Regions from separate parts of the Homo sapiens genome. Here region 1 is linked to region 2. The links come from fine-mapping of genetic effects on gene expression. A gene starts in region 2. The other region holds a variant in brackets. All regions are shown on one strand. Distances are from middle to middle.

Evidence for each region. PIP is the estimated chance that this variant, and not a neighbour inherited with it, causes the effect.
Region 1: its variant is the best candidate, but not a certain one, in a credible set for the expression of GPRASP2 in whole blood (TOPMed, PIP 0.77).

Annotation. Positions count from the first base shown.
Region 1 is chrX:103,229,957-103,235,334 of GRCh38, forward strand. No RefSeq gene overlaps it. Among named protein-coding and RNA genes, the nearest start is that of BEX4, 18 kb to the left of the region's middle. RefSeq lists a cis regulatory region at 3,181-3,763. The variant A/T (reference allele first, on the strand shown) is at 3,229.
Region 2 is chrX:102,709,609-102,714,986 of GRCh38, forward strand. GPRASP2 (G protein-coupled receptor associated sorting protein 2) reads left to right here and starts at 2,840. Exons shown (of 5, transcript NM_001004051.4): 1 at 2,840-2,944; 2 at 3,522-3,609; 3 at 4,174-4,241; 4 at 4,581-4,658; 5 at 4,929-5,378. The coding sequence starts at 5,262. It overlaps ARMCX5-GPRASP2 (ARMCX5-GPRASP2 readthrough), which reads left to right. Exons shown (of 19, transcript NR_146584.3): 5 at 4,174-4,241; 6 at 4,581-4,658.

The DNA.
Region 1 (5,378 bases), 520 kb after region 2:
GCCTTCCTTGGTTAATCATCCAGGTGATTAAGTTCAGCTTCTTAATTTACTTTACATGAGATCCTGGCATCACTACTGAAATCAAGATGACATATCAAGCTTTAGAGTCACTCTCAGCATCCTCTGCCTAAGGAGAATAGCCATGTTAAGAACTTTAAAAATATACTTGCCTGTTCATTACTCAATTTGCTGTTAGCAGTAACATCGTATGGCCCTCTCTCTGGACATAGTTAGGAAGTAGATGTACTCATAATACATGATAAATACACAATAACATTCCCTTTTCCATGATTCTTTAGGTTCTTGCCTCTACAGCATACTAAGCAATCTCTTGTATACCAATCTCGTTTAGTGTGATCCATCAGAAACCCATATTTCAGTCAACCAACTGAGCAAACAATTAGAATCCAGCTGCGTGAGATAACAGATTGGATTTAGAATCTCTGCTGTATGCACAAATATTGATTAATAGCTAATGATTATTATATATAACAATATATATTATATAATAATAAAATTATTATTAATAGCTAATTAATATTAAATAATAATTTAACAAATTATTAGGCACTTATTATGTGCCTGGTGCTGTCCTAGGTGTTGAGGTTTACAGGACTGAACAAAACAAAACAAAACAAAATATCCCAGTCTTCTTGGAACTTAAGTTCTTATTGAAGAGACAACAAAAGAAGGCTTGTGAGGAAACAGCTGAAGGAGGTGAGGGAGTGATACAGGTGAATATCTCAGGGTAGATTTCTAGGCAGAATAAATAACAAATGCAGTGGCTCTAAGTTGAAAGGATGCCTGACCACAGTAGCTAAAATTATGTTCCTTCCTACCTTTAGCTAATATCCTCAGAAACTATTCTCAAACATATTCTGGAGATTATTGGCAATGTGGCAAATACATTAAACAAGCAGAATCTGTAGGATGAATAATATACCAACTTTTTTTTCCTGCTGCCTATGCAAACCTGTTCTTTGGAACTAGTTCTACTCTTGTCCCCTGGGTGAAATCTAGGGTATGCTCCATAACTTTTCTGCCTGCTCATGTAAAGTAAAAATCCTCCTGTCAGTTCTAGTCATAAAACAGTTTCTGTTCAATGAGGGCAGAGAGGAGGTGAGAAGAAATTAAAATCTTATATAATTGACACTGTTATAGCCATCCAGTATTGGCACTTTCTATGACTCCTTCTCTTGTGTGACATTTTTCAGAGTACTATAGGGAGTCTCCCATTGTTGAGGAGCTCTCCCTTGCTGTTCTCTTGAAAAACATATCCCTGGGCTAGTTGCTTTTGACTCCTTATTTAGCCTTTAACCTTCCAGCAGTATATCTCCAGGTTGTTTATTTTAAGGTGTTTTTTTTTCTTCTCCAAAAGACCATCATGATCTAAATCTATGACATCTCCAAGCTACTTCTGTCTTCCATATGGCCCATGTCAAGTCCACGGGAAGCACTTACACATCCTTTGCCCAAAATGGCTCTCAAATTCAAAGAGTCCAGGCTCTCCCCAAACTTTCTTCACTCTGATATCAAGGTAGCTGGTCAGCCAGTCTCTTGTTTTTTGGATTTCTCAGGGATAATTCGGATGCTTACTATGTTATCAAGTTCCAGGAGCTCTGAATCGCCAAATTGAAGATTTTTGCCTCAAGCTTGATGTGATATGAAAAGCCCCTTGCCTTCCTTATGTGGGGGCACTCATGGAATACCAACAGCTCTCATTAGAAACTCCTTTCCAGGCCAGGTGCAGTGGTTCATGCCTGTAATCCCAGCACTTTGGGAGGCCAAGGCAGGTGGATCACTTGAGCTCACAAGTTGGAGACCAGCCTGGGCAACATAGTGAAACCCCATCTCTAAAACAAGAACAACACCAACAAAAACCCACAAAAATTAGCCAGCTGTGGTGGTGCAAGACTGTAGTCCCAGCTACTTGGGAGGCTGAGGTGGGAGGATGGCTTGAGCCTGGGAGGTGGAGGTTGCAGTGAGCTGAGATTGTGCCACTGCACTCCAGCTTTTTTTGTTTTGTTTTGTTTTGTTTTTGTCTCAACAGGAAAAAAACAAACAAACAAACTTTCTTTTAATCTCCAGCAATCTTCTTGGCCTCTCAAATGTCTTTTGTAGGCTGCAAGTCGGTGGTTATTTAAGTGCAACAAAATCAGTGCTCATTCATGTCCATTGCAAAACCTGCTTTTATTACCTTACTCTCCACTTTGGAATTTAGCAGTAGTTGACACCCAGTTGTCTTGGGGTCCCAACCAAAAATGAGGCTGAAATAGGTAAGGTTATATTTCCCATTATAACAATATAAATATTAAAAAGCTTGTAATGTATCTGGTGTGTGAGCTATTTGATTTTCTAATTTCAATCTTCCCACTTTCCCACACTCCAGCATACTGGGATTTGATTCTAATTACAGATTTAGAGAAAATAAGTACATCTGTGGGGCAATGAAGAGGGAATGAGGACAATTGGTCTCCCTTACAAGGGACCTTGAGGCAGGTTGTTATGGATCTTCAAACAAAGTAGGAACAGCCTCACTCATATAGAGGAAGAGGAGCTGATTTAGCTGGTAAGGAAGACCTAATCAGGGTTGAAACTAGGGATATTCTGAAGCAGAGTTCCATTTTCCCCCTTCTCTATCTTGGCTTCCTCTTCCTTGTACTACCTATTTCTTAAGGCCCAGTCCTGATCATAGGGTGTCGCCAACTAGAAGCAATCTCTTCCATTTCTGTCATTGATGCACAGCACATGGGGCCTTGACCTCTTCTGTGGCCTTTAACAAAGGCTGCCCTGTCTCTTTCATCTTAGGTGTGTGTGTGTGCGCGTGCGTGCATGCATGCGTGTGTGTGTGTGTAGAGAGAGAGAGCCCATCTCCTCAGAAAGTTAGGTGCCAGGGTAGTAGGCAGGTGCCCACTCTCATTCTGCTTTAGTAGCATCTATAATGTTTACTTGGTGTGTCTCCAGAAATCTCAGAGGCTTGAGAGAAGCTATTTGCTGATTGGCTCACAAATATCCCTTTTTACTTCCTGCACCAAGTTAAAAACAAAGATTCTATTGACTCCTCTGCTGCTTACATGTAGTCAGAGGCAACCTTACCATCATTTTAATGGAGTTATTGACAGAAGATATCCTCAATTGGGCATGAAGATGGTGATCCGTTTGTGATCAAGTGCTGTTTTGTGAGCAGTTTCACCACACGTGGGCTATACTTACTTTTGAATTTAACTT[A/T]AGCCCAATGCTGCTTATATCTTTTAGTTTGGTAATGTAGTTACATAGTTCAGTCATAAAACAGAACTAAATGTTTGTTTTTCTTGTCCTCAGCCCTTCCCTTCCCTTCCTCAACAATTCAGTCCCAACACTGTCAGATGGGGAAGGTCAAGGTAAGTGTCTTTATCAGATGAGAGGAGGGAGCTGTGTTTGCCTGAGCAGGGTGAGGAAGGCATTCATGCTGGGAGAGCAGCTTATCGCAGGGAGTCAGAGCCTAAAAATTATGATGAGGGCTTCCCAGACAGGAGACAGCCAAGTGAGAGATATTGGAGTTTTATCTGGTTGAAGAGTGTGTCCATGTGGAGGAAGTGTGTGGCAGACTGGAGCGGGGTTTCAGAGTCTGAGCAGGTTAAGAAGCATGTCCATGCTGCTAACAGTGTGAGGAAGGTACCTGTATGGTAGGAGTTGGGTAGGGAGGAAGTCTGTTGCACTACTTCTCAGCCAGAACAGGTTTACAAAGTGGGTTGGAAAACAGGGACTGTAATCCACAGTTGGGAGGATGTCAAGTGGAGCTTCCAAGCAGGGAACGAGGAGTGCAGGAAATGGGAGATTGTTTACATATAGGGGGATTGGTCAAGTAAAGGTAATGGGATCCAAGGTTCTCATTGTCATTGAAGAGAGTTACAAATATAGAAAGGGAGAAAACTAGAATGAACCTGGTGGTATTGTATTGGAGTTAGGTATCAGTGTGAAGTCATGGCTTCAATGGATACAGATACAGAAATATAGATGTAAATGTGTGAATGTATATGAGTGTGAGAATTTGTGTGTGTGTCTCTCTGTGTATATACAAATATTGCCTGATTCCTTCCACTTAGAGGGCCTGGGAGTCACAACACCCCAATAGCAATAAGCACAACTAATTGTTCATATCTTGCTTTCAAAATGCCATTATTAAATAAAAGGAACAAGGAATCCTTGGAGAATTGTTGGATGGGACAGGAAAATAACGCAATGAATCTGGAACATCTTGCTGTGCCAGAAAGCAAAGTGCTAAAGAAATGATGGAGGCATACCAAAAGGACGTGGAAGCAAGCCTGAAGAAGCTTCTACAAGTCAAGTAGGAGACACTGTGAGCATCAAAATAAAGAAATATAGAACACAGTATAGCTTGTTGAATCAAAAAAAGAAAACATAAGTCAGTATATAAATAAATATACATATATAAATACACAATAAATATTTACATAATTTCAAAATTCCTCACCATAAAATATTAATAATTACCATGGAAAAACGAGTACCGAAATGGCCTGGAAATCACTATCTTAAACAAATGGTCAATGAGGATATTATAAGTAATGGGACAAACCAAAATTCTGTGCCACCTGATAGGACAGAAAGAGAATACTATAGGCCAGGCGCGGTGGCTCACTCCTGTAATCCCAGCACTTTGGGAGGCCGAGGCAGGCGGATCACGAGATCAGCAGATAGAGACCATCCTGGCTAACACGGTGAAACCCCATCTCTACTAAAAATACAAAAAATTAGCCGGGTGTGGTCACTGGCTCCTGTAGTTCCAGCTACTCGGGAGGCTGAGGCAGGAGAATGGCGTGAACCTGCGAGGCAGAGCTTGCAGTGAGCAGAGATCATGCCACTGCACTCCAGCCTGGGCCACTGAGCGAGACTCCGTCTCAAAAAAAAAAGAGAGAATACTACAACATCACTTTGGTAATAGTCCTGCCAAAGATGCATAACTTGAATCCATTCAAGAGGAAATAGGAAGCAAATCCAAAATAAGGGACATTCTAGAAAATAACAACTGTAAGATCATGAAAGTCAACAAAAGCCTAAGGACATACTCTATATGAAAGGATAATAAAGAGTCACCAATTAAATGCAACAGGTGATTGTGAACTGGATCCTTTTGCTATAAAGAACATTGCTGGAATAACGTGAAAATTTATTGGGTTCTAAGTTTAGATGGCAATAATATATCAATGTTAATTTTTAAAATTTTGATCATCATATTGCAGTTATATAGGAAAATGTCTCTTTGGGGGAAATATGCACTAAAGACATTTGGGATTATATTTAGTTTCTATCGCAGGTAACATATTACAACACACTAAGCAGCTTGAAACAACACTCATTTATTAACTCATAGTTCT
Region 2 (5,378 bases):
TGAGAGCAAGATCCCAGCGCCTCCAGAATTACCACAGTAACTTGTGCTGGCATAGTTTTCGATACATCTGCAAACTTTCAGAATAGGGAATTGAACAGGAAACCACAGGTGAATGTAAGCACCACAAGAAAGGGGATTCATTTCTCTTTGGTTTATACTGTATGCCCACTGCCTAGGAGAAAGTAGGAGCTCAATATATATTTGTTGAATAAATGAAAGGCATCAGTAACGTTATGAAAGGGGAAGAACAGCTCAGGAAGGCAAAGAGATGTACACGCGCCAACAAATTCCAGCAGACCCAGGCTCTGTTCTCCCAAGCCTGTAATTCATTCATGAGAGTATGCTGTGGAACAGAGAAAATCCACCATTCAGTTAAGGCCATGAAAAAGGCAGAGTTAACGTGGTCTTCCTCTAATACATAACATTCATCTCCAGATGTGGTACAGAATCATCCTCACATGTTTTCTTCATATCAGCAAAATATTGTACAGTTATAGTAAATATCTGGTAACAAAAGCTGTATGGAAATATATGAAAATTCATCATAAGAATAGGGCTCCTGGCCAGGCACGGTGGCTCACGCCTGTAATCCCAGCACTTTGGGAGGCCGAGGCAGGCAGATCACCTGAAGTCAGGAGTTCCAGACAAGCCTGACCAACATAAAGAAACCCCATCTCTACTAAAAATACAAAAAATAAGCCAGGCGTCTTGGGGCATACCTGTAATCCCAGCTACTCAGGAGGCTGAGGCAGGAGAATCACTTGAACCCAGGAGGCGGAGGTTGCAGTGAGCCAAGATGGCACCATTGCACTCCAGCCAGCCTGGGCAACAACACCGATAGTCCCTCTCAAAACCAGCAACAACAACAACAAAAGAATAGGGTTCCCTTTTGTACCTGGGAAATATCAGTGGTTTCAGCAAAAAGGAACTTTCTCCAAGATTACCTATAAGGGACATAAAAAAAATCACTGTCCTTTAGGAAGCAAAGAAGAGGCAATTGATGTTTGTAGTGGTGAGGCATGAGCTCCAAAATAGATCTTCCCCAGAGACTGATCCACGGGTAAAGAAAGTCAAGGGGAATAGACTTCATCAGGATGGTGAGTGTATTAGGTTCATACTGCTGCTTTAACCAATTACCACACATAGAAGGGCTTAAAATAATACAAATTTATTATTATCTTACAGTCCTAGAGGCTGGAAATCTGCAAAGGGTTTCATTACACTAAAATCAAGATGTTGCCAGAGGAGCTATCCCTCTGGCATTTCTAGGGAAGAATCTGTTTCTTTGTCTTTTCCAGGTTCTGGAGACAGCCTGTATTTCTTGGATCTTGGCTTCCTTCCATCTTCAAAGCCAACAATGGCCAGTGTAGACCTTCTCATGATGCTTCAATCTGATATTGAGTCACTGCCTCCCTCTTCCACATTTAAAGTACCCTTGCAATTACATTGGCCAAGATAATCCAGCATAATCTTAAATTAAATTCAGCTGATTAGCAATCTTAATGATCCTTTGCCAGGAAATATAAAATGGTACATGTTCTGGAGAACAGGACATGGACATCTTTAGGGGACCGTTACTTGCCAAACACAATAAGGGTAGCACCTAAATGAGTTTTCAAATGGACAGCAGTAACAACAACATCAACTTCGTATTTAACCACATTGCTCTGTCTGTCCCATGCAGGAAGCAGGGAAAGGAGGGGCTCAAGAGTAGAGGACGGATGTTGGGGTGAAAGAAGAGGATTCAAAAGGAGCCAGGTTGCTTTGTCTCGGGGAGGGGGGTGCACGGTGGGATCCTCTCCTGAGAATGACTGCTGAAACAGCAGGTAGTTGTGGCAGGTGGCTGAGATCCAAGCTGGTTCGAATACCAGCCACATTTCCACACTGCCAAATGTCATGGCAAGAGAAGACTTGACAGGGAACCGAAGAGGAGCCAGGACCATCCCTACCTGGCGGCATCAAAGAGAGAGGACTGTTATGACCTCCTGCGGGTCCTGACAGGGAAAGGTCCTCTTCTGGGGGCAACTGTGGCGACGGCGCAATGCCAACGTGAGCCACCATTTGAAATGAGAAAGAGCAGTGTGGCAGAAAGGAATGAGTTTGGTGCAGACCAGTGGTTGGTTTCCTAGGGTTAGAGGTCTAGGTCTACCTTCTTTTAGAAGAGGGGCAGTGGTGAGTCCTTGATGGGAGCCCCCTGCCCCGGAGTTCACTTAAGAGCAGGTGTACCTTCCTCCCCTGCGTGGCTCCACGAAGCTGGGAAAGAAACGCACAAGAGGACCACCCTAGAGCCCCGGGCCTGTATGGCCTGAAATCGCCTCTCCCCTCCCACACTGCAGTGCTGACACCCCCTTTCCCATCAGCTTCCAGAAAGGAGGGTTAGGGGACTGGGGAGAGGGAGGGGGCAGACACCCAGCAGTCCCTGTGAGGGGGGCGGTTGGGGCGGGGGTGCAGACACATCACGGGGCGGTTTGGTATCCATCCGCTGTTCTCTCCAGCGCGGCTCTTCCCGACCTCGCGATCCTGTCCCCTGCCCGGGCCCCCAGCCGCCCGCTGGTCCCATATATTACAGCAGCGACAGAAATATGGTAGTGGTCGCCACGTTAGGGTCCGTGGGGGCCTCCTGAGGCAGCCTGGTGCCAACCCGCACGCCCAGGCTGGGGCTCATCCTGGCCCTGCCCACCTCGGGGTCGGAACTACGGTGGGCCTGGGATGGGGGCGTCAAGCACTTTCGCGCCGTATCCCTCCGCCCCCCTTCCCGACACCCTCGCGGCGAGCGGTTCTTGCCGCATCCTGCGCAGCCCCTGCCTACTTTGGTGCAGAGGCGTGGGGGGCGGGACGCGTCTTTCCCGTTCGGATCGCGGGGAAAGCAGTGGCTCCAAGTGAGCCAGAGGAGAGCTGAGGAGAGGAGGGGGAGGCCGACGACCTGGGCCCTGGGCCTCTGAAGGCAAGTGCGGGTGCATGAGGTGGGGGTCCGGGTTGCGGGGGTGGTCTGGCAGGGTGGACCAGCAGGCAGCCTGCCCCGCGGACCCTGACAGCCTGGCAACGAGGAGACGATCCGGTCGGAGCCAGGCGCTTGAGAGAGGTGCGCAGTGCCCGAGACCCCTGGCGATGGGGAGGCGGTGACCGGAGCGGGCCTGGCCAAGGGCTGAGGGGCTGGCTCGGGAGGCACCGCCAGATCGTTTGGAGGAGAACCGCGCTGACCGCTTCCCAGCCAGCTTTGCAGGCGCCCGCGCCCCGCCCTCGACGGTGTCTGTGCCCGGAGAGGGCTGTGGGGGAGGCTCCTGCGGGAGAAATGGCGGAGCGGGAGCCGCTGTGGGGGCGCCCGGGAAGGCCGTTGGGGGGCGCCCGGCGAGGCCGGCGGGGGTCGGCGTCCCGGCTCTGTACCCAGTCCGCCGGAGGTGAGCCGCGTTTGCTACTCCGGGTCCCGATTCCCGAAAGGGGCCTGTGGGGCCCCATGTCCTCGGTGCCTTCCCTTCCCACAGGCTCCAGGTTGATGTCAAAGTCTTGTGTCTGTGCGGTAGGTCTGGCGTATTCTGACAGGACACAGTGAGCGTCTGTAGAGGAGAGGCTTGAAATAAAGGAGCACGAATATTGCCTGGATTTCTGGAGGTGTGTGGGGATGGGGGTTGGGCGCTAAACACTGATTGGGGACCCGAATCGGGGTAGGGGACTGTGACCAGAGCAAGTCAGGCATCCAGGAGCACCTCCTAATCTTCACCTCTCTAATGGCGCTCCCCCCACCTTCCATCCCCACCTGTCTCCCCCACCGTCCTAAACTGGGGGCATGAAAGGGTGGGCTTTGGAGGTGGGGGTGATGAGGGAGACATACTGACAAGTACTAATTCACAACCTGTTTTCTAGAATATGCGGCGCCCTTCCCCCATTTTATGCTGCGCAGAGCAAGGGGATGTGGCGCACCTAGTGGTGAATCCTCAGAATTGGAGAAGGGAGTAATGGGAAGAATATGACGTCAAGAGAAGGAGTTGTTATCTCTGGAACCTTGAAGCAGGGCCCAAATAAAACGAGAATATTCCACCAGCAAAACCCCGAATGTTGAAAGACAGATACCAATAATATGGGGACTCTTATCCTTGGCGTTGGCCTGTCTACCAAGTGCTCTTCTGCCACCACTCATATCCTGACTGTCTTACTTTTTCATGTGTTTGTCCATAGGCCTACTTTAAGGCTGGCCAATTCTGCAAGAAAGGCAAGGAGGAGGAGACTGGCTCACAGCTCTGGAGGTTAGTGAGAAGGGGGAGAGGACAATGCAGGGGACAGTTGGAGAGAGCATGGCAGGTGGCAGATCCACTTCCACCTGTAGTAGAAGTGGCAGACCCACTTCTATTCTGCCGGATTTGCACAGTGCCAGCATCCTTTTTATTTCTTGCAGGAGACACGAGATAGGTGTAGGTTGGGTTGTGACTCAGAAAAGACCTGAGAGCAGGGACTAGGACACAGGAAACCATAGATACATTGAACTCTTGAATGGGAAGACAGATATTTGTCACAGGGGCCAGAGTGCCCACCTACCTACCAAGCACTCACACTCCATTCTCTCCTGTATGTTCACTTGTCTGTAGGACCCCCTTCTGTCAGCTGTGGGGCTTGACACCACTTGAACAAGAAAAGGAGGGGGAAACTGCACCACATCAGTGAAGGTTGGTATGAGAGCGGGTATACTTTTGGGCGGGGTAGTGGAGACCAGCATGGGTCCGGGAGTGATTAGGGTCCAATCTGGGGGCTTCTTGGCCCCTCCCATTGCCGACACACTTTCCCACCATTGTTGGACCTGTTTTGTAGGAGGCAGCCGGTCCAGAGAGACTTTCTCAAAGCCCAGCTGTCCCACCTAGCATTCAACATCAGTCGCACTGCATACGTCTCATACAATTGGAAGAGACTCAAAGCCTCATTTCATTCTCTCTCCCTAGATCCACCTCCAGTGGCTGCTCTGCTGGTGGTGGAGTTGCTGCTGACAACCACCCTCAACGGGTCTGCACCCATCCAGGAAATATCTGTCTTCCTTTAGCTTGGTTGTACCTGTTCTCACTCTATCTGTATTATTGAATTATTGACTGAGACTGTGTTTGGGAAGGAGGCTGAGTGACTACTGGACTGGATATTGACTCTAACTCTTATTCCCAAGCTTATATCCTTAATCACCTAAAGATCAGAGTGTGAAGAAACAAACCTGTGACAGATCTGTGGTTGAGGTTTAGACTACGGGAGGAGTATATTACCTGACTTTCTTTGTAACTTGTACCATGACTGGGGCAGAGATTGAGCCTAGTGCCCAGGCCAAGCCTGAAAAGAAGGCTGGGGAAGAGGTTATCGCTGGGCCTGAGAGAGAGAATGATGTCCCTCTGGTGGTCAGACCCAAG